Linked DNA regions of Homo sapiens: regions 2 and 3 are each linked to region 1. The links come from fine-mapping of genetic effects on gene expression. A gene starts in region 1. Each other region holds a variant in brackets. All regions are shown on one strand. Distances are from middle to middle.

Region 1 (8,290 bases):
TGGTGATGATGAAATGTTCTAAGGTTATATGGTGGTGACAGCTGCACAACTCTGTGAATATACTAAAAAATACTGAACTGTACACTTTAAATGAATAAATCATGATAGTTGAATTATAATCTCAATAAAGCTATTGGCCAGGTGCTGTGGCTCACACCATTAATCCAGCACTTTGGGAGGCTGAGGCACAAAGACTGCCTGAGGCCCAGTGTTCAAGACCAGCCTGGGCAAACAGATTCTATTTCTACCAAAAATAAAAAAAATTAGCCAGGTGAGGTGGCACAAGCCTGTAGTCCCAGCTACTTAGGATGCTGAAGCGGGAGCATCACTTGAGCCCAAGAATTTATGATCACACCACTGCACTCCAGCCTGGGCAACACAGTGAGACTCTCTCTCAAAAAATAAAACATTAAAAAGCTGTATCATGTTAAAGTATAACAGTGAAGGAACCATTTCTTGTGATTTATTCTTTTTTTTTTTTGAGACGGAGTCTCGCTCTGTTGCCCAGGCTGGAGTGCAATGGTGAGATCTCAGCTCACTGCACCCTCTGCCTCCTGGGTTCAAGCAATTCTCCTGCCTCAGCCTTCCCAGTAGCTGGGATTACAGGCGCCCACCACCACACCCAGCTAATTTTTGTATTTTTAGTAGAGACGGGGTTTCACCATGTTGGCCAGACTGGTCTTGAACTCCTGACCTCAGGTGACCTGTCCACCTCAGCCACCCAAGGGCTGGGATTACAGCCATGAGCCACCCAGCCCAGCTCATCCTCACGAATTTCAAACAGATGCCTTGTAAATGAACTTTTAATGTGAACTCTAAATGTAAACTTAAAGTGTACAATTGTTGGTTGTTCTATCAGGCCCCTTCCCTCCCCCGCCAAAAAGTCAATACTTTCAGAAAGATCTCTTATCATTTGTGTATAATTTAAACAAATCTAAAGATTCTTTCTACAGGTTATTCCATCTCCCACCCTGAAACAGAACATGAGTTAGTATTTACACCTGCATGGAAAACATTGTACACTGTATTTTCATTGAGAAATATGTAGTCCTTCTTTTTTTTTTTTTTTTTTTTTTGAGACGGAGGCTCACTCTGTCGCCCAGGCTGGAGTGCAGTGGCACCATCTCAGCTCACTGCAAGCTCTGCCTCCCGGGTTCACGCCATTCTCCTGCCTCGGCCTCCTGAGTAGTTGGGACTACAGGTGGCTGCCGCCACGCCCGGCTAATTTTTTGTATTTTTAGTAGAGATGGGGTTTCACCGTGTTAGCCAGGATGGTCTCGATCTCCTGACCTCATGATCCGCCCACCTTAGCCTCCTAAAGTGCTGGGATTACAGGCGTGAGCCACCATGCCCGGCCAAGAAATATGTGGTCCTTTTACTTTCCCAGTGAAATGGTTCAGTGATAAGTCTGTGGGGGGAAAAAAGGCTCAGTGTGAGGTAAGTATCAATCAGCACCTTCTCACTTCCTTCATCTCTTTTTCTTGAGACAGTCTCACTCTGTTGCCCAGGCTGGAACGCGGTGGGGCAATCACGGCTCACTGCAGCCTCTACCTCCCCAGCTCAAGCAATCCTCCCACCTCAGCCTTCTGTGTAGCTGGGACCACAGGCACATGCCACCATGTCCCGCTAATTAAATTTTTTTTTTTTTGGTAGAGATGGGGTTTTGCCATGTTGCCCAGGTTGGCCTCGAACTCCTGAGTTCAAGTGTTCCTCTCGCCTCAGCCTTCTGAGTAGCGGGACAGGCATGCACGCCTAGCTAATTTTTTAATTTCTCGTGCAGATGGGGCTGTTCTGAACTGGCCTCAAGCGATCTTCTTGCCTCAGCTTCTCAAAGTGCTCGGATTACAGGCAAAAAAAAGCCACCACACCCGTCCTGATTTTCAGAATATTAAGTAGCTCAGTTTCAGTATTCCAGAGTTGGTTTTTACACAGGTAGGACGCTAGATTATTCCTATGTAACATGTAGATAAGGCATTGATAAAATATATCATATGTGGCCTGGCAGGGTGGCTCACGCCTGTAATCCCAGGACTTTGGGAGGCCATGGCAGGCGCATCATCTGAGACCAGCCTGGCCAATGTGGCAAAACCCTGTCTCTACTAAAAATAAAAATAGAAAAACTTAGCCAGGTATGGTGGCGGGCGTCTGTAATCCCAGGTACTCGGGAGACTGGGGCAGGCAGAACTGCTTGAACCCAGGAGGGAGAGGTTGCAGTGAGCCGAGACTGGGCCACTGCACTCCAGCCTGGGTGACAGAGTGCGGCTCCGTCTCAAAAAAGTATCATGCTATCTCATATCAAGTATGTGTAAGTGATGTGCCAAACAAATTGCTACTGGCAGGCTGAGGTATGCGGACCACTGGAGCCCAGGCTGCAGTGATCATCATGCCTGTGAACAACCACCGCACTCCAGCTTGGGCAACAAAGCAAGACCCTTTCTCTAATGGAGTGTAGGGGAGGAGGAAGAAGAGGAGGAAGGGAATTCAAGAACCCAAAGTTACCGGGTGCAGTGGCTTACGCCTTTAAAATCCCAGCACTTTGGGAGGCCAAAGCGGACAGATTGCTTGAGCCCAGGAGTTCAAGACCAGCCTGGGCAACACGGAGAAACCCATCTCTACAAAAAATAGAAAAATCAACCAGGCATGGTGGTGTGCGCTTGTGGTCCCAGCTACTTGCTTTTTCTTTTCACTGGGCAAATGAATGTTGAGAAGAAAAACTAAGGAAATACTATATATAAGGAATAATTGCTCATGTTCAACTCACCGTTTCCTCAATTTAAAAAAAGTGTGTGTGTGTGTGTGTGTGTGTGTGTGTGTGTGTAAACGGGGGGCTCTCACTATGTTACTCAGGATGGTCTCAAACTTCTGGGCTGAAGCGATCCTCCCGCCTCAGCCTCCCGAAGTGCTAGGATTACAGGCCTGAGCTACCGTGACCGGTCCCCGTTTCCTCAACAGAGGTTAAAAAGCTCGTGCTCTGGCCGGGCACGGTGGTTCACGCCTGTAATCCCAAAACTTCGGGAGGCCAAGGCGGGCGGATCACCTGAGGTCAGGAGTTCGAGATAAGCCTGGCCAACATGGTGAAACCCCGTCTCTAACTAAAAAAGATACAAACATTAGCCAGGCGTAGTGGTGGGAACCTGTAATCCCAGCTACTCGGGAGGCTGAGACAGAAGAATCGCTTGAACCCAGGAGGCAGAGGTTGCAGCGAGTGGAGATCGCGCCACTGCACTCCAGCATGAGCAACAGAGTGAGACTCAGTCTCAAAAAACAAACAAACAAACAAACAAAAAACAAACACGTGCAGTCTCAAAAAACAAACAAACAAAAAACAAACACGTGCTCTGGAAGAGGCAACCGAATGCGCATTAGAATCCCCCTAGCATTTAGTCACGCGTTCTTATTTCATTTTTTAAAACAGCGATAATACCAACCAAGTAGAATTACCAAGAGGATGAAATTGGGTAATGTTTGTAAAGCATTCCACACAATCCCTAGCATATTAGGAGTAGCCTGGGAGAGATGAGCATTCTCTATGTAACACAGAAGGCCCGAATCCTCTGGAGAGTTAAGGCCTCTCAATTAGCTGTCAGGGGACCAGCAGGCCACGCCACATATTTTCCTTATTTGGCAAGTCTTCCATTTTCAGTCTTTTCATCCACAAAACCGAGATGGATGAAAAATGCCTACGAATCCGCCGTTCTTACGTCCCAGGCTTGTCGTGAGGATCAATGGGACAAGCGGCGTGAACCGACCAGGGCCCATCAAGTCCGAGAAGCCCCGGGGGGCATATGGAGGGACGCCGGCCCCCTTAACGGGCCCAAGGCCGGGACTGCGGCCGCCCCCGCCAGTACTGCCCGCCGGCGCCCGACACCCTGAGCAGGGCTCGCTGGTAGGCCCAAGGATGCCCAGGACCACACCCTGCCTAGCACTCAGGCAGCCCCAAGGCCGGCACCCGCTCACCTCGGCCCGCTCCGGAGGAGAGGGAGTGGTGAGAGGAAAGGGCGCCCACCTGAGGGCACAGGAATCTTCTAGCGAAAAGATCTACTCAAGGCTGGCACAGCCGGGGACACCCTTCGCCCCAACCGGCCGGCGTGGGCCTGGCGGGGACTCCCGCGCTCGGGGACGCGCCTGCGCCTCTTCGCGGAAGGGTCGGAGCTGCGCGGCTCCGAGGACCCGTCCCTCCCCCCGCTCCTCGCCCAGCCTCTCCCGCGCTGACCCGCGGGCTGGCGGCCCGAGCGGCGACGGGACGCGACGGGGAGCAGGCTGCTAACGGGCCTCCGGCGCCCACGACCGCGCAGGGCCCGCGAGGGGAGAGCGCGCCCCGGCGCCGGGAGGCCACGCACGCACATAACGGGGCGCCCGCTGGCCCTCACCCAGGATCTCCCGGCGCCGGTCGGCGTGCGGCTGGTCGGTGTAGACCCACTCGAAGTCTTCCCGCGAGACGCGGCTCCCCATGGCGACAGCGGTGGCTTGCAGACTAGCTGTCGGCTCTCGCTCCCAGCCGGCTGCTCAGAGGTGGCGGCGGCGGCGGCGGCTCCCCGGCTGGTGTGGTGTCGGCCGGCTGTGGCGGAGCGCGGAGGAGACGGAGGCGTGGGCGGAGTCCCGAGGCCCCGCCCCCCCCGGCCCGCCCGCCTGCCTCTCTGGGTGGAGGGCGCGTGGCGCTCCCAGGCCCCCGTGCGGGGCCGGCTCTCAGCGATTCTGGGACGCGGGGTTCTGAGCTTCGGTGACTCGGCCACCATCCAGGATGCCGCGTTCTTGCGAGTGCCCGCCCCTGCGGCCTGCTGCGCCGGAGCCCGGAGAAGATGAAAAAGGAAGGAATGGTCTCAAGTGAGATAAACCTGCCGCCCTAACGCCTCCGCGAGGGGAGCACCGGGCACGGCTACGGTCACACCGAGTCTGGAGGCCCCGGAGCCCTTCTTAAATGGCAGCTGGCCTAAGTTTTGTTTAATTTTTAAAAAGCAAATTAGCCATTGAGTCATATTTCGCTGCCTTCTGGAAATAATACCTCAGGGAAAAAATGCAGAGTGCGTGACAATTAAAAGCTAATCAAGTAAAAAGAAAACACCATTATTAAGAGGGGGTGATGATGTGGGATTTGTTGTTGTGCTTGAATTATTCTAGTGTGACCACTTCTGTTAAGAGATGATTGCTCAACCTTGCATCTACCTGTCGCAGAAGTAATCAACCACAACCTCTTCCTGAAAGAAAGGTTTTGAAACGAAACTAATTTTGTTTCAACATTAGTTACCACGTCTACATCAAAGAGCAACTTAAAGATTACAAAAAGAAGATAACCAAAGCAGGTGTGCCTCCTAGTCAAAGAACATGCTGTGCACGCGCACACGGCACACACACACACACAAATCTGATCGAGCCCCTAGATCTGACTGTTAATTTATAGAAAATAGAAAGGACATTTGGCCGGGTGCGGTGGCTCACGTCTGTAATCCTTGCACTCTGTGAGGCAGAGGCGGGTCCATCACCTGAGGTCGGGAGTTCGAGACCAGCCTGATCAGGATGGTGAAACCCCCGTCTCTACTAAAAATATAAAAAAATTAGCTGGGCGTAGTGGCAGGCGCCTGTAATCCCAGCTACTCAGGAGGCTGAGGCAGGGGAATCGCTCGAACTGGGAGGCAGAGGTTGCAGTGAGCTGAGACGGAGCCACTGCACTCCAGCCTGGGGGACAGACGGAGACTCCCTCTCAAGAAAAAAAAAAGAAAATAGAAAGGACAGAGGAATGTGTTAAACTAGGCCGTGGGGATGAAACTAGCAAGATCCAACTCTGGGAGACTATATGGGACAATGTCTGGGTTCTCTAATAAATGAAACTCAAGGCAAAAAAAGAGAAACCTGTAGATTAAAAGGAGTTTAAAAGACATACCAACCAATTGCAACGTGTTGACCTCATTTAGATTCTGATTGAAATAGTTTAAAAACATTGACATGAAATAATTGAACTCAGATATCAATTGGATATGTGATGATATTAAGGAATTATGAATTTCTTAAGTGTGATAATAGTATTATGGTTATAGTGGGTTTTGTTTTTTTTGAGACAGAGTCCTGCTCTGTTGCCCAGGCTGGAGTGCAGTGGTGGCCTCATGTCTCACTTCAGTCTTGACCTGAGCTTAAGCCATCCTCCCACCCCAGTCTCCCGAGGAGCTGGGATCACAGGCGTGCACCACCATGCTTGGCTACTTTTTTGAATTTTTGATAGAGATGGGGCCTCACCTTGTTGCCCAGGCTGGTCTCAAACGCTTGGGCTCAAGTGATCTCAAAGTATTGGGATCACAGGCATGAGCTACTACATCCGACCCCAGGAGCATTATTAATAAGTCCCTAAGACCCTCTCAGTACATTCACTTCTGAAATAGAGAGGGCCAGCACGGCTGAGACATCTAGCAGAGAAGGCTGTGAGAGCAGAGGGGAGACAGAACAGTGACACCTGGAGTGGAGGCCTGAAGGCTGATCAGAGCCCAGCGAGGGTCATGTCTGCAGGGCATGCTAGCAAATGCGTGGCTGGGTCAGCCTCCAGAGGGTCCCAGTCTCGAAAAAGGAGTGGGATTTGATGATGGATAGATACACAGGTCTGATCATGCAGGAGCTTTTTAGTTGTTAATGAAATGGTGGAGGAAAAAGAAGGTGGGGAGTGTCACCTGGAAAAGGACAGCTTTGTATTTGCCAAGTTTCATCTGGATTGGCAGATGGCACATGAAGCTGATAATTGGACTCAACTCAGGAGGAAGTTTTCAGGTGCTGACAAGTAAATGTATCCCTGCAGTTCAGAACGCAGTTGCTATCACAGGCATGTGTGAACTGGCACACCAGTCCAAAAGGTGTGCGGAGGCTTACGTCTGTAGTCTGAGCACTTTGGGAGGCCGAGGTAGGGGGATCGCTTGAGGGCAGGGGTTCGGGACAAGCCTGGGCAACATGGCAAAAACCCACCTCTATAAAAAATACAAAAATTATGCCGGGTATGGTGGCTCATGCCTGTAATCCCAGCACTTTGGGAGGCCAAGGCGGTCTCCAAGGTCAGGAGATCCAGACCATCCTGGCTAACACGGTGAAACCCCATCTCTACTAAAAATACAAAAAAAATTAGCCAGGCATGGTGGGGGGGGCGCCTGTAGCCCCAGCTACTTGGGGGGCTGAGGAAGGAGAATGGCATGAAACCGGGAGGCGGAGCTTGCAGTGAGCCGAGATCGCACCACTGCACTCCAGACTGGGCGACAGAGCAAGACTCCGTCTCAAAAAAAAAAAAAAAAAATTTAACTGGGCGTGGTGGCCCATGTTTGTGGTCCCACCTATTGCTGAGGCTGAGGTGGGAAGATTGCTTGAGCCCAGGAGGTCGAGGCTTCAATGAGCTGAGAAATGAGCTGAGATTGTGGCACTGCACTCTAGCCTGTGTGACAGAGTGAGGCTTTGTCTCAAAAACATTAAAAAATAAAAGAAAGAAAGAAAAATGCAGAGTTTGAAAAAAAATGTGAATCTGGATATACCATTTTTTTTTTCTGAGATGGAGTTGCGCTCTGTTGCCCAGGCTGGAGTGCAGTGTCAAGATCTTGGCTCACTGCAACCTCTGCCTCCTGGGTTCAAGCGATTCTCCTGCCTCACCCTCCCGAGTAGCTGGGATTACAGGTGTGTGCCACCACGTCCAGCAACTTTTTGTATTTTTACTAGAGACGGGGTTTCACCATGTTGGCCAGGCTGGTCTTGAACTCCTGACCTTAAGTGATCTGCCCTTCTTGGCTTCCCAAAGTGCTGGGATTACAGGCATGAGCACCACACCTGGCTTGGACATTCTTTTTTTTTAAAAAAAGTTACAATTCATTTAATAGCAACTGGTAATCATGAAATTTTCTTATTTTGTTTAAACCCTCTTTAAACAAAAGTCTGCAAATTAGCACTGATCATTTGCAAAAGTCATTACATATACTGCCATTTTTCTTAAGGTTGACCAAAGATAACCTAGAATTATAGCCGTTACATAATCACACAAAATGATTATATATTAATCAGACCTGGTTTATCACCAGCATTTATAAAAACAGACGTAGGGAAAGAACTAGGTCTAGGGACACGTACATGGTCTTAATATAGCGACTGTTTATCCTGTCCTGACTATTACAAAATCAATTTTGACATTCTAAAGTAAACTATTTGAGCTACAGGATTGTCATGGGCATTGATAGCTATTTTAATGATGTCTAGGCATGCTTCTTTAATTTGGACTTTTAAAAGTTCTTAATATATACGCGTAATAAAAAAGTAAGCTAAGAAGTATAGCCAGGCA
Region 2 (8,290 bases), 43 kb before region 1:
ATTTTTTTGAGACAGAGTCTCGCTCTGTCACCCAGTCTGGAGTGTAGTGGCATGATCTTGGCTCACTGCAACCTCTGCCTCCTGGGTTCAAGCGATTCTTCTGTCTCAGCCTCCTGAGTAGCTGGGACTATAGGTGCGCACCACCATGCCTGGCTAATTTTTTGTATTTTTAGTAGAGACAGGGTTTCACCATATTGGTGAGGCTGGTCTCAAACTCTTGACCTCGTGATCCACCCGCCTTGGCCTCCCAAAGTGCTGGGATTACAGGCGTGAGCCACTGCGCCCAGCCCACAATCTCAGAATTTTAATCATCTGATTCAAGTATTATTTGACCTACTCTACGCTTTTTGATAAATGGCTTTGTATTTCTTGGAGCTAGACTGTACCCAAACTAAGCCATAGGGACTTACCCATACATTTCAGGGAAATAAAAACATCTTCACCATAGGTGGGAGAAGGGTTAAAAAAAAATCACTCTGGAGCTGGGCACAGGGGCTTATGCCTGTTATCTCAGCTACTCAGGAGGCAGAGGTGGGAGAATGGCTTGAGCCCAGGAGTTCAAGATCAGCCTGGGCAACATGGTGAGACCCTGTCTCTACAAAAAAATTAAAACTTAGCCAGGCATGGTGTCATGCACCTGTAGTCCCAGCTACTTAGGAGACCGAGGCAGAAGGATTACTTGAGCCCAGGAGGTTGAGGCTACACTGAGCCATGATCACACCATTGTACTCCAGCCTCGGTTACAGAACGAAACCTTGTCTCAAAAACAAACAAATAAACACAGAAGAAAAAACACACTTCAAGTATTTCTTTGGGATGAATACACAGGAGTGGAATTGCCACCCAACATTTAAAATGTTAATTTGCCAGACGCGGTGGCTCACTTCTGTAATCCCAGCACTTTGGGAGGCTGAGGCGGGCAGATCACGAAGTCAGGAGTTCAAGACCAGCCTGGCCAATATAGTGAAATCTCATCTCTACTAAAAATACAAAAATTAGCTGGGCGCGCACCTGTAGTCCCAGCTACTGCGCACCTGTAGTCCCAGCTACTCAGGAGGCTGAAGCAGAAGAATCGCTTGAACCTGGGAGGCAGAGGTTGCAGTGAGCCAAGATTGCACCACTGCACTCCAGCCTGGGCGACAGATTGAGACTCCGTCTCAAAAAAAAAAATTTTTTTTTAATTTGACCACAGTGAGATTCTACTACACACCTACCACAATGACTAAAATTTAAAATATTGGCAACACTAAATGGTGGCAAGGATATGAAACAGCTGGAACTCTTTTTATTTATTTATTTATTTATTTATTTTTTTGAGACAGAGTTTCACTCTTGTTGCCCAGGCTGGAATGCAATGGCACAATCGCAGCTCACCACAACCTCTGCCTCCTGAGTTCAAGCTATTCTCCTGCTTCAGCCTCCCGAGTAGCTGGGATTACAGGCATGTGCCACCACACCCGGCTAATTTTTTGTATTTTTAGTAGAGACAGGGTTTCTCCATGTTGGTCAGCCTGGTCTCCAACTCCCAACCTCAGGTGATTGGCCCGCCTCAGCCTCCCAAAGTGCTGGGTTACAGGCCTGAGCCACCACGCCTGGCCTGGAACTCTTATACATTGTTGCTGAAAATGTAGATACAACCACACTGGAAAACATTCTGGCAATTTCTTTTTTTTTTTTTTTTTTTTTTGAGACGGAGTCTCGCTCTGTCGCAATGGCGCGATCTCGGCTCACTGCAAGCTCCGCCTCCCAGGTTCACACCATTCTCCTGCCTCAGCCTCCCGAGTAGCTGGGACTACAGGCGCCCGCCACCATGCCCAGCTAATTTTTTTGTATTTTTGTAGAGACAGGGTTTCACCATGTTAGCCAGGATGGTCTCGATCTCCTGACCTCGTGATCCACCCATCTCAGCCTCCCAAAGTGCTGGGATTACAGGTGTGAGCCACCGCGCCCGGCCCATTCTGGCAGTTTCTTATGAATGTTAATGTAGTGTAAGAAGCTTCTACTTTCCCGGCCTGGCGCAGTGGCTCACACCTGTAATCCCAGCACTTTGAGAGGCCGAGGCGGGTGGATCATGAGGTCAGGAGTTTGAGACCATCCTGGCCAACATGGTGAAACCCCATCTCTACTAAAATGCAAAAAATTTGCCGGGCGTAGTGGTGCGCACCTGTAGTTCCAGCTACTCAGGAGGCCGAGGCAGGGGAATCCCTTGAACCCAGGAGGCAGAGATTGCAGTGAGCCGAGATTGCACCGCTGCATTCCAGCCTGGGCGACAGAGTGAGACTCCGTTTCAAAAAACAAAAAAAGAAGCTTCTGCCTTTGCCTCCTTTCCATCTGGATTCAGTGTAGTTTAGAATTGTGCTTTCTTCACTAATTAGATAGACATAAGACTCTTGACCTGATTTTTTAGGAAAACTTGAGTCAACGATTGTGAATGTCATGGAGTCCCCTGTGGAAAGGAGCATGTGTAGGATTTAGATTAGGATTTAGATGCAGGAAGGTAAAATATCACCTCTCTTCAACAGTAAGTTAGTCAGCAGGAGCTACTATGACAAAGTACCACAGACTGGGTGGCTTAAAAAGTGGAAAATTTATTTTCTCACAGTTCTGGAGAGTGTTGGGCAGGATTGGTTCTTCTGGAGCCTTTGTCCTCACTGATGGCTGTCTTCTCCCAGCGCCTGCATGTGCTTTTCCCTCTGCGCACATGCTCTTCCCTCCTGTGCCCTAATCCCCTCTTTTTGTAAGGAGAGCAGTCATATTGGATAAGAGTCTACCTGTATGACCTCATTTTAATCCAGTCTCCTCTA[T/C]AAAGACCCTCTCTCCAGTTACAATCACATTCTGAGGTCCTGCGGGTGCGGACTGCAGCATGTGAATTTTGGGGGGCACCATTCAGCCCAAAACAAGCAGTGACGGTCTCTGTATTCTGTGTTCTCCCTCCTTTCAGGATCAAATCATGTATGAACGTTTGCAGGAGTCCCTCAGCCGGTGATGTCTCCAGCAGCCGGCTTAGAGGAGCTAGCCCATCAAGCCGGCAGAGAATCCCCCACACGCTCTGAAGGACCCACTTTCAGCTGGACACAGGCGCGGCCTCATGTAAACATTTTATTTTCAAATGAATGAGGCCAAGCTGAAGCTGAAGCTGAAGATTCTTCCCATCTGGCCAGCCTTGTGTGAAAATGCCTTCTTCCTCTTTAAGAAAAAGGACAATTTTTAAACTGCTGAAATAAAATGACTGTTACATTTTTCAAATAAAACTTTTACTTTGAACTATTTTGACTATACAGAAAAGTTACAGAGATCTCCTCCCCCGCCTTCCACAACCATCTAGGAATAAGTGCCAACCTGATGCCCTATCACTCCCAAATACTGTCATGTGTATTTTCTACACTTGAAGATATTCTCCTACATAACCCACCATCAAAGTCAGGGAATTAATACATTGATACATCACTGCCATCTAATCCTCCTCCATTCACGTTCCTCTAGTTGTCCTGATAATGTCCTTTAAAACAGGTCCCTAACCCCCAGGTTGGAGACAGGTACCTATCTGTCTCCTGTTAGGAACCAGGACGCACAGTGGGAGGTTAGTGGTGGGCGAGCGAGCATTACTGCCTTAGCTCCACCTCCTGTTAGATCAGTGGCAGCATTAGACTTTCATAGAAGCGTGAACCCTGTTGTGAACTGTGCACTTGAGGGACCTAGGTTGTACCCTCCTTATGAGAATCTGATGCCTGATGATCTGAGGTGGAACAGTTTCTTCCTGAAACCACCTCCCCTGACCCTGTCTGTGGAAAAATTATCTTCCACGAAACCAGTGCCTGAGCCTAAAAGGTTGGGGACCACTGCTTTAAAAGGAGGCCACTGCAGTTAGTTGCTACATTCTTTAATCTCTTTTAAGCGTGGAACATTTCTTCAGGTTTGACTTTTGACACTTGTGAAGGTTTCAGGCCAGTTACTTTGTAAAATTCCTTGAGTGTGGATGTGTCTGATGTTTTCCTTGTGATTAGACTCAAGTTATGCATCTTTGGCAGATTACAAAGTGACACTGTGCGCTTGTCATGTGGCATGCGATTTCAGTTTGTCCTGTTACTCATGATGTTCACTGTGATCACTTGAGGTAGTTCTTCCAGGTTTCTCACACTACAAAGTTACTCTTTACTCTTTTTTTTTCACTTTGTAATGTATGTGTATTTTATGGGAAGTTACTTTGAAACTCTATAAAGTCCATTCCTCATCAAAGTCAAGTATTACTATTTTTAATATATTATCCATTATTATCATTATGATATTCAAACTGTCCCAGATTTGACTCTCCTTTGGCCTCTATATGTTTGATGAGTCCCTAGGCAATACTTTGTGAAGGGCTTGATTTTTGTTGTGTTCAACTCATAATTTACAGTGTTGCTCACAATATATCCGGAAGTTATATATAGATGGGTCGGGTTACCTACTTTTCTTTCTTCTTAAATTTTTACTTCACCTCATTCTACAAAAATTTTTAGGCTACTTTTAAGAATGTGGACCAGTCACAGTGGCACATGCCTGTAATCCTAGCATGTTTGGGAGGCCTAAGTGGGAGGATCACTTGAGTTCAGGAGTTCGAGAGCAGCCTGGGCAACATAGTGAGACCCCCCACATCTCTACAAAAAGAAAAAAAAATGTTACAAGGCCAGGCGTGGTGGCTTATGCCTGTAATCCCAGCACTAGGCCAAGGCGGGCAGATCGCCTGAGGTCGGGAGTTCTTGACCAACCTGGCCAACATGGTGAAACCCCGTCTCTACTAAAAATATGAAAATTAGCCGGGCGTGGTGGCAGGCACCTGTAATCCCAGCTACTCAGGAAGCTGAGGCAGGAGAATCGCATGAACCCGGAGGCGGAGGTTGCAGTGAGCCAAGATCGCACCACTGCACTCCAGCCTAGGCAACAGAGTGAGACTCTGTCTCAAAAAAAAAAAAAATTTACAAAAAGAATGTGGTGAAAAAATGTTACTAAAAGCAAATCAGGGTTACAAAGGTCAATAAAACAGTCTTTTTTTTTTTCTTTTTTTGAGACGGAGTCTTGCTGTGTTGCCCAGGCTGGAGTGCAGTGGTGCAATCTCGGCTCACTGCAACCTCCACCTCCCGGGTTCCTGCCATTCTCCTGCCTCAGCCTCCCAAGTAGCTGGGACTACAGGTGCCTGCCACCACGCCCGGCTAATTTTTTGTATTTTTAGTAGAGACGGGGTTTCACCGTGTTAGCCAGGATGGTCTCGATCTCCTGACCTTGTTATCCTTCCACCTTGGCCTCCCAAAGTGCTGGGATTACAGGCGTGAGTCACTGTGCCCAGCCAACACAGTCGTTTTTCTGAGGAGTTCGCAGAAGGATTCAGACATCTCAGCAGAGTATGACCATGCCCAGTGAAAGGGCATGAAGAAGAGGGTACCTTAGGACACCAGAAGAGGGAACACCAAAAAAGAAAAAAAAAGGCAAATCAGGATCACATACTAAAGGTAGGTGATTAAGAATGAAGGGAAGCCGGGTGCGGTGGCTCACGCCTGTAATTCCAACATTTTGGGAAGCCAAGGCGGGCGGATCACGAGGTCAAGAGATCAAGACCATCCTGATCAATATGGTGAAACCCCGTCTCTACTAAAAATACAAAAATTAGCTGGGTGTGGTGGCATGGCCTGTAGTCCCAGCTACTCGGGAGGCTGAGGCAAGAGAATTGCTTGAACTCAGGAGGCAGAGGTTGCAGTGAGCCGAGATCGTGCCACTGCACTCCAACCTGGTGACAGAGTGAGACTCTGTCTCAAAAAAAAAAAAAAAAGAATGAAGGGAAAATTGGAATATGCACCAGAAGGTCTTAAATTTGAGGAGCAGATTCAACTCTGCTTGACATCCACCCAATCCTGAGAAACACAGTCAGGTATATCATAGATGTGGGTTATGAGAAAAAGCAAAAATCTTCTTGACTATTAAATGTTAGGTCTAAGTATCCAACTTGCTGGTAGTTTAGCTTAACCTCGACATAAAATGTAGAACGCATAAGAGAGCAGACTGGCTGCGTGTTCGTTGGCTTTGCCAGTCAGGTATGGTACATGTTGAACAGCAGGCAGATACTGCGACAGGTAGTGTGACAGTGGATGTTGCCAGCACTTCTGCAAATGGAAGGGAAGATCATATTTTTCAGCATGATCTGTGTACTACACACTGCCAAATGTTATCTTAACGCTCCCAACTCATACTAGGGATCAAATAGAGTTATCCCCATATCATCAAAAAGAACAAGGTTCAGAGCCTGTTCAAGGGGACTCGCGGAACAGTCTGAATTCTGGTCTACAGCGGTCTAACTTTTCTTTCTCTTGTGAAAAAGATCCAGTCCTCTGTTCAGAAACTCCCGGAATTATGTCCTCTGTTCTAGCACTGTCAAAGATTTAGCCATTTCATTAAACACTTTGTACTGAGCATTACTAACATAATGGTGAACAAACTCAGAACTTAATGCCCAGTGTGGTGTGTGTGGCAGAGAGCTTATCGCCCTATAATGTCCATTCTTTTCTTCTACCTTTTAGTAAGAAGGGCTCTTGCTGCCAGGAAAGTGACTAACAAACATCTGGCTAGTATAATATAAACAGAAGCGATGGGAACAGCTTCTGGTTACATCCTTATAAGGAAGTGACTTGGGTTGCATTAACCCATCATTAACTCAGGGCAGCCTACATTGAACTCAACACACCTTCTCCCAGAAGCAAAGACCCTGGCTATGTCCTTGAAAAGTCATAACTTGTTTAAAAAAGAAGGTGCTACCTGTCATTTTAACTCCATGCTGCCCTTCCCGGGACTAGAGAGTGATGAGCTGATGATGAACCTGTTTTGGCCTTGTAAATGGAGACAACATCCTAGGGAATGACAAAGTAATAAAACACAAGAAACCAGGATCGTGGGCAACCCTTGCAGCAGAGTTTCCTCAACCCTCAGATGGTCATTTGCCTCACTTGTGTGTGTGATCTTTATATTGCTTAAGCTATTTATATTTTGGTCTGTGTGAAAGGAGCCAAATTCATATCCAACTTAATACAGATAAAGAGACAGTCACAAAACAGTGTGAGAAGGGCTGAAAAGGGATAAGAATAGTCACCAAGCGAAGAGCACAGGGTAGGAGCAGCTAGTCCATAATTGGAATTGGAAGGTTCTCCCAAGAATGCAATGTGTCAGCGGAATCCTGAAGGCAAAGAAGATGAAGGAAGGAGGTAAATGACCTGAGCAGAGAACAAAGGCCTGGATAAGGGAGGGGCTGGTGTCAGTGGGAAGAAGCAGGTGGTCTCTCATGTTTGTATGTAGGTTATTGCTGAAAACATGTCCAAGTAGTATTTACTGGAAGATCTTATTTCCAAAAGGTAAAAATGTTGTAAAATGCCTTATTACCCTAAAAAGTATAAGTAGATATAACTTAGGTAAAAGTATAGTATTCTATACTTTGTATCTGTCACTATTCTAGATCTCACTGTTTGAACTCAGGAACTGAACAGATTTGGATACATTTTTTGGACAAATCCCTCACTATTTGAAATTGCACTACTCACCTTCCAAAGCTGAGAAGCCAAATAGATTTGGGTGAGATGGTATTGCTCATGATTCAGACTCTAACCTTATCACTTTTGCTTTGGATTATGAGACTTACGCTTATCACTATTATCAGCATTTGTTTTTCTTTTTCTTTCTTTTTTTTTGGTGACGGAGTCTCCCTCTGTTGCCCAGGCTGGAGTGTAGTGGCATGATCTCGGCACACTGCAACCTCTGCCTCCCAGGTTCAAGGGATTCTCCTGCCTCAGCCTCCCGAGTAGCTAGGATTGCAGCCGCGTGCCACCACACCCGGCTGATTTTTGTATTTTTAGTAGAGACGAGGTTTCACCATGTTGACCAGGCAGATCTTGAACTCCTGGACTTAAGTGATCCACCCACCTCAGCCTCTCAAAGTGCTGGGATTACAGGCGTGAGCACCTGTGCCTGGCCAAGGGCAAGGATTCTGTCAGTCAGTGTCTCTGTAGCACCCAGCCCGGATTCTGGCATGCAGGAAGCATTGAATAAAGTGAAGTGAATGAACTGTTCTTCAACAACATGTTTGTCCAAATTAGACTGCTGGGGCACAGCTCCTCCAGGTGAGAATTTTTAATGTTTGCTCACCAGGTAATAGAAGTTTGACTTTGTCATATGAACCAGACACAGTGGCTCATGCCTGTAATCCCAATGCTTTGGGAGGCCGAGGCAGGCAAATCACCTGAGGTCAGGAGTTTGAGACTAGCCTGGTCAACAT
Region 3 (8,290 bases), 53 kb before region 1:
CTGAGGCAGGAGAATCTCTTGAACCCGGGAGGCGGAGCTTGCAGTGAGCCGAGATCATGCCATCACACTCCAGCCTGGGCCACAGGGCGAGACTCTGTCTCAAAAAAAAAAAAAAAAAAAAAAAAAGGACAGTTTGTTACTTTCTTTCAAGTGAGGGTACTTGAAATTATTTCTTTTTCTAAAGGTTTAATCTTCTAAGAATTAGGAAACTTCTGAGAGTATCTAAACATATAACAGTGAATTCGTTTTGTGAAGTTCATACCCCACCTCATTTATTTATTGTGTTCCTTTATATACTGAGCTTTCTTTCACAAAAGATTTTTCTTAAACAAAGGATATGCTAAGAATAGGAAGCTGACAATTGCTCCCATTATGCAAATGTGAGGAAAATTCCTCCTCTGCTGGGCGCTGTGGCTCACGCCTGTAATCCCAGCACTTTGGGAGGCGGAGGCGGGCAGATCACAAGGTCAGGAGTTTGAGACCAGCCTGACCAACATGGTGAAACCCCGTCTCTACTAAAATACAAAAACTACCCAGCGTTGGCTGGGCACGGTGGCTCACGCCTGTAATCCTAGCACTTTGGGAGGCCAAGGTGGGTGGATCACCTGAGGTCAGAAGTTCAAGACCAGCCTGGACAACATGGTGAAACCCCATCTCTACTAAAAATACAAAAAATTAGCCAGGCGTGGTGGCGGGCAACTGTAATCCCAGCTACTTGGGGGGCTGAGGCAGGAGAATCGCTTGAACCTGAGGGGCGGAGGTTGCAGTGAGCTGAGATCGCACCACTGCACTCCAGCCTGGGCCTGTGACAGTGAGACTCCGTCTCAAAAAAAAAAAAAAAAAAAAAATTACCCAGCGTGGTAGCGCATGCCTGTAATCCCAGCTACTCGGGGCTGAGGCAGGAGAATCGCTTGAACCTGGGAGGCGTAAGTTGCAGTGAGCCGAGATTGCGTCACTGCACTCCAGCCTGGTGACACAGCGAGACAGAAAAAAGAAAAATTCCTCCTCTGGGTCCTCACAAAGAGAACACTAAGATGCGATGCACAATGTCTTTAACGGTATTTCTGACACAAACACAATAAGCCTCTTGGGACTGAGGCTTGTCATTTTCTTAATATAAACTGAGGGTATTACACAAAGCCAGTTCATTAAATACAATTTGATGAAGGTCCAAGAAATGCACTCTGAGGATGCACAGGACCTTGTGGAGGTCCAGCTTAACCCAAGGGTAGAATTTAGATATTGAGAAGTATAAAAGAATTGTCTTCTTATGATTCAGCTTTTGATTAAAACAGGGCACTGGATAGTTTGAGATTAGATTGTCTAACAGCACGCGGAGTGTCCTTAGGGAAGATCCGTACAGTTAATGTGACAGTGTGACAGTCGAGGTAAGTTGATAGGTTCTTAAAATCATAGAAAGCACCTAACAAGGGCTCCTACATAATGTGGCAGCCCCACCACCATAGCAAGAAAGTCTACGCTAGTCTTCATTTTAAGAAATCACTATTATATGTTCACTGATGCCCCCCTCCCCTCTCAAATATAGCACAAAATTATATATACTCATCTGGAAATAAGATACTTATCTATTAAGATACTTTAAAAAATTAAATAATAAAGATTAACAAAGTTCTATAAGGGCCATTCAGTTGCAAATTTGAACTTTAGAACTCAGGTTTTCTAATTCCTCGCCCAGTGTTACTTGCACTGTTTAGGTCTTTTTATTGAAGTATGATACACCTACAGAAAAGTGGTAAATGTAAAGTAGATTTAGAGATTCAAGAAAGAAATTAAAAAGTGGTAAATGTCCAGCTCCATGAATTGTTACAAAGTCTCCAGATCAAGAAAGAGAACACTCCAAGTCTAATTCATAGAACTATGAAGTACAATGGTGACTGCCAGAGGTTGGGAGGCGGGGGCAGGAAGAATGGGGAGTTAGTGTTTAATGGATGCATTGTTTTCTTTGGGAAGATAAAAGAGTTCTGGAGCCGGATAGGGGTGATACAACAATGTGGATGGACTTAATGCCACTGACCTGTACACAGAAAAATGGTTGAAATGGTCAGTTTTTTGTATGTTTTGCCACAATAAAATAGAACATTCCCACACCGACAAAAGCTGCCCTTCTACTTCCAGCCACTACCCACTTCTACCTGCCCCCAGGATTGACCACTATCCTGACTCGGTTGAAAATTGTTTACACTAAAAGATGCTTAGCAATCCTACATTCTGACCCTTTAGTTTTATTACTTAGAGAAAAAAGCACAAGATTGTTTGCCTAAGATCATAGTTTGTGTCCCAGGTCAAAATGGATTGAATGGGAAATTAACTGTTTCTTGAACCTGTGGTAGATAACATGTCCATTTTATTTAGTGATAGCAACTAACAGATGTATAATTTATGCAGTTCTTGAACATGCCCTGCTGGGAGGCAGTGAGACGCTGGTATGTGAGTGTGGGCAGAGCAACAGGTAACTAGTGCACAAGGCCGGCAGCTCCAGTCCTCTCAGCCAGGTCGCCGAACCCTGTGCCTGGAGCACTTTGCCAGGCTGACGTTTTACACTAAGAAAAGCTTACTGGGCAGGTGCTGTGGCCCTCACCTGTAATCTCAGCACTTCGGGTGGCCAAGGCGGGCAGATCGCTTGAGCTGAGGAGTTTGAGATCAGCCTGGGCAACATCGTGAAACCCCATCTCTACAAAAAATACAAAAATTAGCCAGGTGTGTGGTGGGTGCCTATAGTCCCAGCTACCCAAGAGGCTGAGGTGGGAGGATGGCTTGAGCCCGGGAGGTGGAGGTTGCAGTAAGCTGAGATTGCGCCATTGCACTAAGCCTGGATGACAGAGCCAGACCCTGTCTCAAAGAAAAAAAAAGAAAAGAGAAAAGCTTAATGGCTTGTGTTTATTCACTTTTGTGTGTGTTTCTTCTTTTTTTTTTTTTTTTTTTTTTTTGAAACCAAGTCTCCAACTCTCCAACTGTCACCCAGGCTGGAGTGCAATGGTGCGATCATGGCTTACTACAGCCTCCACCTCCCGGGTTCCAGTGATTCTCCTGCCTCAGTGTCCCGAGTAGCTGGGATTACAGGCACACGCCACCCCATCGCTCCTAGGAGACAGAGGTTGCAGTGAGCCAAGATCGCACCACTGCACTCCAGAGCGAGACTGTCTCAAAAAAAAAAAAAAGTAGCCAGGCATGGTGGCATGTAGTTCCAGCTCCTCGGGAGGCTGAGGTAGAAGGATCTCTTGTGCCGAGGAGGTCAAGTCTGTTGTGGTTGTTCCACTCACTCCTGCCTGGGCGACAGAGCAATACCCTGGAGGGAAGAAAAAGCTTGTTTTGTTTGCCTCTGCAGTTTGTCACTAAAAATATTATTAAACATAATGTATGCATGCAAGTTACTGGGTTAAGTGTTAAAATTCTGGGTTGGTTTTTTTTCCTCTACATCCAGTCTCATGAGAAATTCTAAGAGTTCTAAGTTACATACTTGTCATTGCTAATGTGTCTTGAAATGAGCTGAAGGGGAATTGGCACCAAAATCAAGATTGAGTGTTAGCTAAATGATTAAGAAAGAATATACTGAGCTTAGAGTGCTTTGTGCTTTTATTTTAGAGCAGATACTGCTCCTTCTCTCCTGGCCAGGTTCAGTATTATTTCTTCCGTCCTAGCCAGCCTCACACCAACACTAAGCATTGCTTAAGTATTTGCCATGTTTAAGCTGGAAAGGAAATGTGTTTCTTCACCTTTGGAAAGATCGAGGTGCTAGTTTTCATTCTTGTTGATGGTGTTTAGTATTTGCTGCAGCTGTACACAAATTCCTCAAACTTCATGAGCATAAATTGTTTGCCTTTAGCTTTCTCAAGTTTGGAATCTGCTTCTTAGCCTCATTTCTCAACATTGAAATTTGTATAAACCTTAACAGCACCAGTCTGGAAGTCAGTTATACTCATTTAGTCAAACAGCCATTATTAAGAACCTATTATGTAGATGAATATGGTCTTTATCTTTGAGACTCAGTCTCACTCTGTCGCCCAGGCTGGAGTGCAGTGGCATGATCTCTGCTCACTACAACCTCCACCTCCAGGGCTTGAGCAATTCTCGTGCCTCAGCCTCCCGAGTAGCTGGGACTACAGGTGCATACCATAACGCCCAGCTAATTTTTGTATTTGTAGTAGAGATGGGGTTTTACCATGTTCCACAGGTTGGTCTCGAACTCCTGACCTCAGGTGATCTGCCCACCTTGGCCTCCCAAAGTGCTGGGATTACAAGCATGAGCCATCGCACCCGGCATGGTCTTTAAAGCTCCAATGAAAAATCATTTTTCTCTCTTACTTAGAATGGTACCAAACCACCACTGGATGCAGATGTAAATTTGGAAGCAATTGCTGGTGACCTTCGCTGTGATTGCTATACGTAAGTGTTTAAATCTTAAGTCAATTCACTCTCTGGGGTTCAATTTCCTCATCTATAAAATGAGGGGTGATGATGCTCACCTCAGCAGATTGTTGGGAGGATTAAATGAGGTATCCCATGAAGCACATAAAGTGTCTGGCATCTCCCTTCTTAGAGAAGAGACTGCACATTTGGAGGCCCTGAAGGAATTCCTGGGAACAGGGGAGTCCTTTCATATGTTGACTCTTGGTACTTAACCTACCCTAACCAGCACTGCTGTCCTTTACAAATTGTACTGGTGCGTCAGCATTTAAAAGAGACTAATCTACAAGTGCCACATTTTGCAGCCCTCAGGATGCATTTTCACCTCCACATAGCCTGTAGTAACATCAGGAAATCTGACATTTCTGCCTTCATCCTTCCTATGTTTGTGTTGTTACAGTTATTAGTTTTTCTTCATATGTTTTGAAGTAAATTTGTTTGTTAACTTTCCCAATTTGGGGACACAGAGGGAGGAAATGAAACTCAAGTTTAACTAACAGAGACAATGCCCCCTCCGGCTTTTTGTTTTCTTTTTTTTCTTTTTTTTTTTTCCATACAGGGTTTCCCTCTTTCACCCAGGCTGGAGTACAGTGGCATGATCATGGCTCACTGTAGCCTTGACTTCCTGGGCTCAAGCAATCCTCTGACCTCAGCCTCCTGGATAGCTGGGACTACAGGTGCATGCTACCATCCCCAGCTAATTTTTTTAAAAAATTTTTGTAGTTTTAGGGTCTCGCCATATTGCCCAGTCTTGTCATGAACTCCTGAGCTTAAGTAGTCCCTCATGCCTCAGCATCCCAAAGTGCTGGGATTACAGTGAGCCACCACACCCGGCCCTTTTTTTTTCTCTATTATGTCCTTCCAATGTAGCAGTGATTCTCAGTGAAGAGAAACTGATCAGAGTCTCAGGCAGGGGTGGTGAGGGGCAGATGTAAATGCCTCTACCTCCCCTTAAATAGGATGTGCCTCACCCCCTAATTAGGAATCAAATCCATACGAGTCTTTATTTAAATGATGTGGCCAGGCACAGTGGCTCACGCCTGTAATCCCAGCACTTTGGAGGCTGAGGTGG[G/T]CAGATCACTTGAGGTCAGAAATTTGAGACCAACCTGGCCAACATGGTGAAACCTTGTCTCTACTAAAACTACAAAAATTAGCCGGGCATGGTAGTGCACACCTGTAATCGCAGCTACTAGGGAGGCTGAGACAGGAAAATTGCTTGAACCCAGCGGGTGGAGGTTGCAGTGAGCTGAGATCGTGTCACTGCACTCCAGGCTGGGCAACAGAGCGACACTCCATCTCAAAAAATAAAAATAAATAAAATTAAAAATAAAGAAATGGCCTTATGCTTAGGAGACTACTACTTGAGTAGTTTACTGCTTTAAGGGTGGGAGCAGTGGCTCACACCTGTAATCCTAGCCCTTTGGGAGGCCAAGGCAGGCAGATTGTTTGAGGCCAGGAGTTCAAGACCAGCTTGGGCAACATAGTAAGACCCCATCTCTACAAAAAAAATAATAATAATACAGCTTTAAGTGCTCAAATCTGAAAAGATTTTCGGTGAGTAACAGGTGATTTTGGTGGCGGAACTTGCCCTGGGCTAAATCTTTTGGATATACCAAGTAGGCTATCAGTCTGTGAAGGGGTTAGGGCTAAAGTTGAATGGTGTACATTTTGGATTTTCATGCCACTATAATTACAGTTTGAGAGACACTACACCACTACAGTCTATAGCTATCTGCTTGTGTTAGTTAATGGTGTTTCCACCAATGTTAGATTTCATAGTATGGGAAGGAATGAATACCCCAGCAGGTATGTGATTATTAAATAATGTTATAACCCTAACATTTAGCCAACAAAACACCAGATTCAGTTAAAAATTTAAGCTCTGTGGGTCTTTACTTTTATATAGTATGTGTCTGAGGCAGGAGAATCACTCATACCCAGGACGCAGAGGTTGCGGTGAGCCAAGATCACACCACTGCACTCCAGCCTCGGTGACAGAGCAAGACTCCATCTCAAAAAAAAAAAAGTTATATAGTATGGGGATTATCAACATTATATAATAAGTTTAATGTCCAGAGATGAGGTTTTTTAAAAAAATTTATTTTTCATTTTCATCTTTTCTTTCCAAGACTTGTGAATCATAGAAGTGATGTTTTTATCCCCAAACTCAAACTCTTTCTCATATAATCTCTAAGAACCCTGTTACAGCTGTAATGTAGTGAAACTCCAGTCAACATGAGTGTCTTTCATTGAACTCAGAACTGTGCTGACTCAGCATATTATTACATGAACTAATTAAATAAGTGAAGGCCTGTTTTGTATTTGTCATATTTTAAGTAACTTATGATGTGTTCATTCAGTTTTAACTTGAATCAGGTGCATTAAAGACTTTCCAGGGTTTGTATTTTTCCCTTCTGAACTTGGAGCCACAAGTGACTTTTTGGGGGGTTTTCTTGAGACAGGGTCTCACTCTGTCACCCAGGCTCACTATAGCCTTTGCCCCCCAGGCTCAAGCAATTCTGCCATCTCAGCCTCCCAAAGTGCTGGAATTACAGGCATGACCCACTGCGCCCAGCCCATAAATGACTTTTTAATAAGCTTACTTTAGACATTATGTAATACATGAATATGCTAGTCAGCACTTTAGCCCTTTATGCATTGTATTGTTTCCTCCATAATTTCCTTTCTTCTTGAGTTTAGTTTTTTTTTGTTTTTGTTTTTTAATTGGGACAGAGTCTCACTCTGTTACCCAGGCTGGAGTGCAGTGGTGCGATCTTGGCTCATTGCAACCGCCACCTCCCGGGCTCAAGTGATCCTCCCACCTAAGCCTCCCCAGTGCCTGGGACTACAGGTGCATGCCACCATGCCCAGCTAATTTTTTTGTAGTTTTGTAGATATGGCATTTCTCCATATTGCTGAGACTAGTCTCAAACTCCTGTTCAAGTGATCCACCCACCTCGGCCTCCCAAAGTGCTGGGATTATAGGCGTGAGCCACTGCACCTGGCCTAGAAATATCTTATATAAAAGCTAAGAGCTCTTTTCTATTGATTGATAATCAATTTATTTCTCATCTTTATTGGTCACTTTTTCTCCTGATTATTTAATATATGACTTATATGAAAACTGTTTTCCGGGTTTTTTTCTGGGATTTTGCAGTATCTAAGAATAAGTAGATAACTATTATTTTATTGTAGGGGCGCAGATCTCTCTGCTTTGGTACGAGAAGCTTCTATCTGTGCCCTGAGACAGGAAATGGCAAGACAGAAGAGTGGAAATGAAAAAGGTACAATTCTCTCCAGAATCTCTCAATTCTAATTATGATACTTAAAACCACTGTTGCCCTGGAAAATGACCATTTTCTAGTGTCTATTATCTATGATATTAAAGCTAACGTTTTTCTAATAAGACTGTTAGAAGCTGTTCTGAAATATTAGGTAACCTCTGTTGCTGACAATTATAATAATAGCAAAGTTATTTAGTACCTCTCTAATAAAGAGTACTGTCCCTATAGGCAAATGGATCCATTCGCTGTCTTCATCATGAGTCTGGGCTGCTTATCAATTCTGGAAAAACGTATTCTTTTGCTAAGGTGATATCTACTTGCCTGTTAAAATGCAGCCTAAATTGGAGAGCTTAGAAAATACACAAGAGAAGTGAAATTTGGAATAACTTTCCATATGTTGAGACTTTCCTTTCAAAATATAAAATCTGTGTATTGTGTTATGTGATGCTTTGGGGCCATCTCAAAAGCTTTGCACCATCCTTCACATTTGACAGTGTCTTTAATGTTATTATTTGAGTGCATATGGGGGAAAAAAATTGTCTGCTGGGTGTGGTGACTCACATCTGTAATCCCAGCACTTT

The links. PIP is the estimated chance that this variant, and not a neighbour inherited with it, causes the effect.
Region 2: its variant is the best candidate, but not a certain one, in a credible set for the expression of DEGS1 in monocytes (Fairfax 2014, PIP 0.70).
Region 3: its variant is the best candidate, but not a certain one, in a credible set for the expression of DEGS1 in whole blood (Lepik 2017, PIP 0.79).

Annotation. Positions count from the first base shown.
Region 1 is chr1:224,179,499-224,187,788 of GRCh38, reverse strand. DEGS1 (delta 4-desaturase, sphingolipid 1) reads right to left here and starts at 4,549. Exons shown (of 3, transcript NM_003676.4): 1 at 4,371-4,549. The coding sequence starts at 4,452. It overlaps LOC124900425 (small nucleolar RNA SNORA72), which reads right to left and starts at 8,148; the gene lies at 8,022-8,148. RefSeq lists enhancers at 1,076-1,625, 2,177-2,236, 3,710-4,539, 4,874-4,963, 4,540-5,370 and 1 more and silencers at 2,208-2,502, 3,804-3,883, 4,044-4,423, 4,524-4,723.
Region 2 is chr1:224,222,322-224,230,611 of GRCh38, reverse strand. NVL (nuclear VCP like) reads left to right here. Exons shown (of 23, transcript NM_002533.4): 23 at 2,942-3,267. The coding sequence ends at 2,986. LOC101927164 (a long non-coding RNA gene) reads right to left here. Exons shown (of 3, transcript NR_110668.1): 2 at 6,784-7,198; 3 at 2,569-3,186. Among named protein-coding and RNA genes, the nearest start is that of MIR320B2, 31 kb to the left of the region's middle. The variant T/C (reference allele first, on the strand shown) is at 2,805.
Region 3 is chr1:224,232,620-224,240,909 of GRCh38, reverse strand. It overlaps NVL (nuclear VCP like), which reads left to right. Exons shown (of 23, transcript NM_002533.4): 20 at 4,328-4,404; 21 at 7,621-7,709. Among named protein-coding and RNA genes, the nearest start is that of MIR320B2, 20 kb to the left of the region's middle. The variant G/T (reference allele first, on the strand shown) is at 5,498.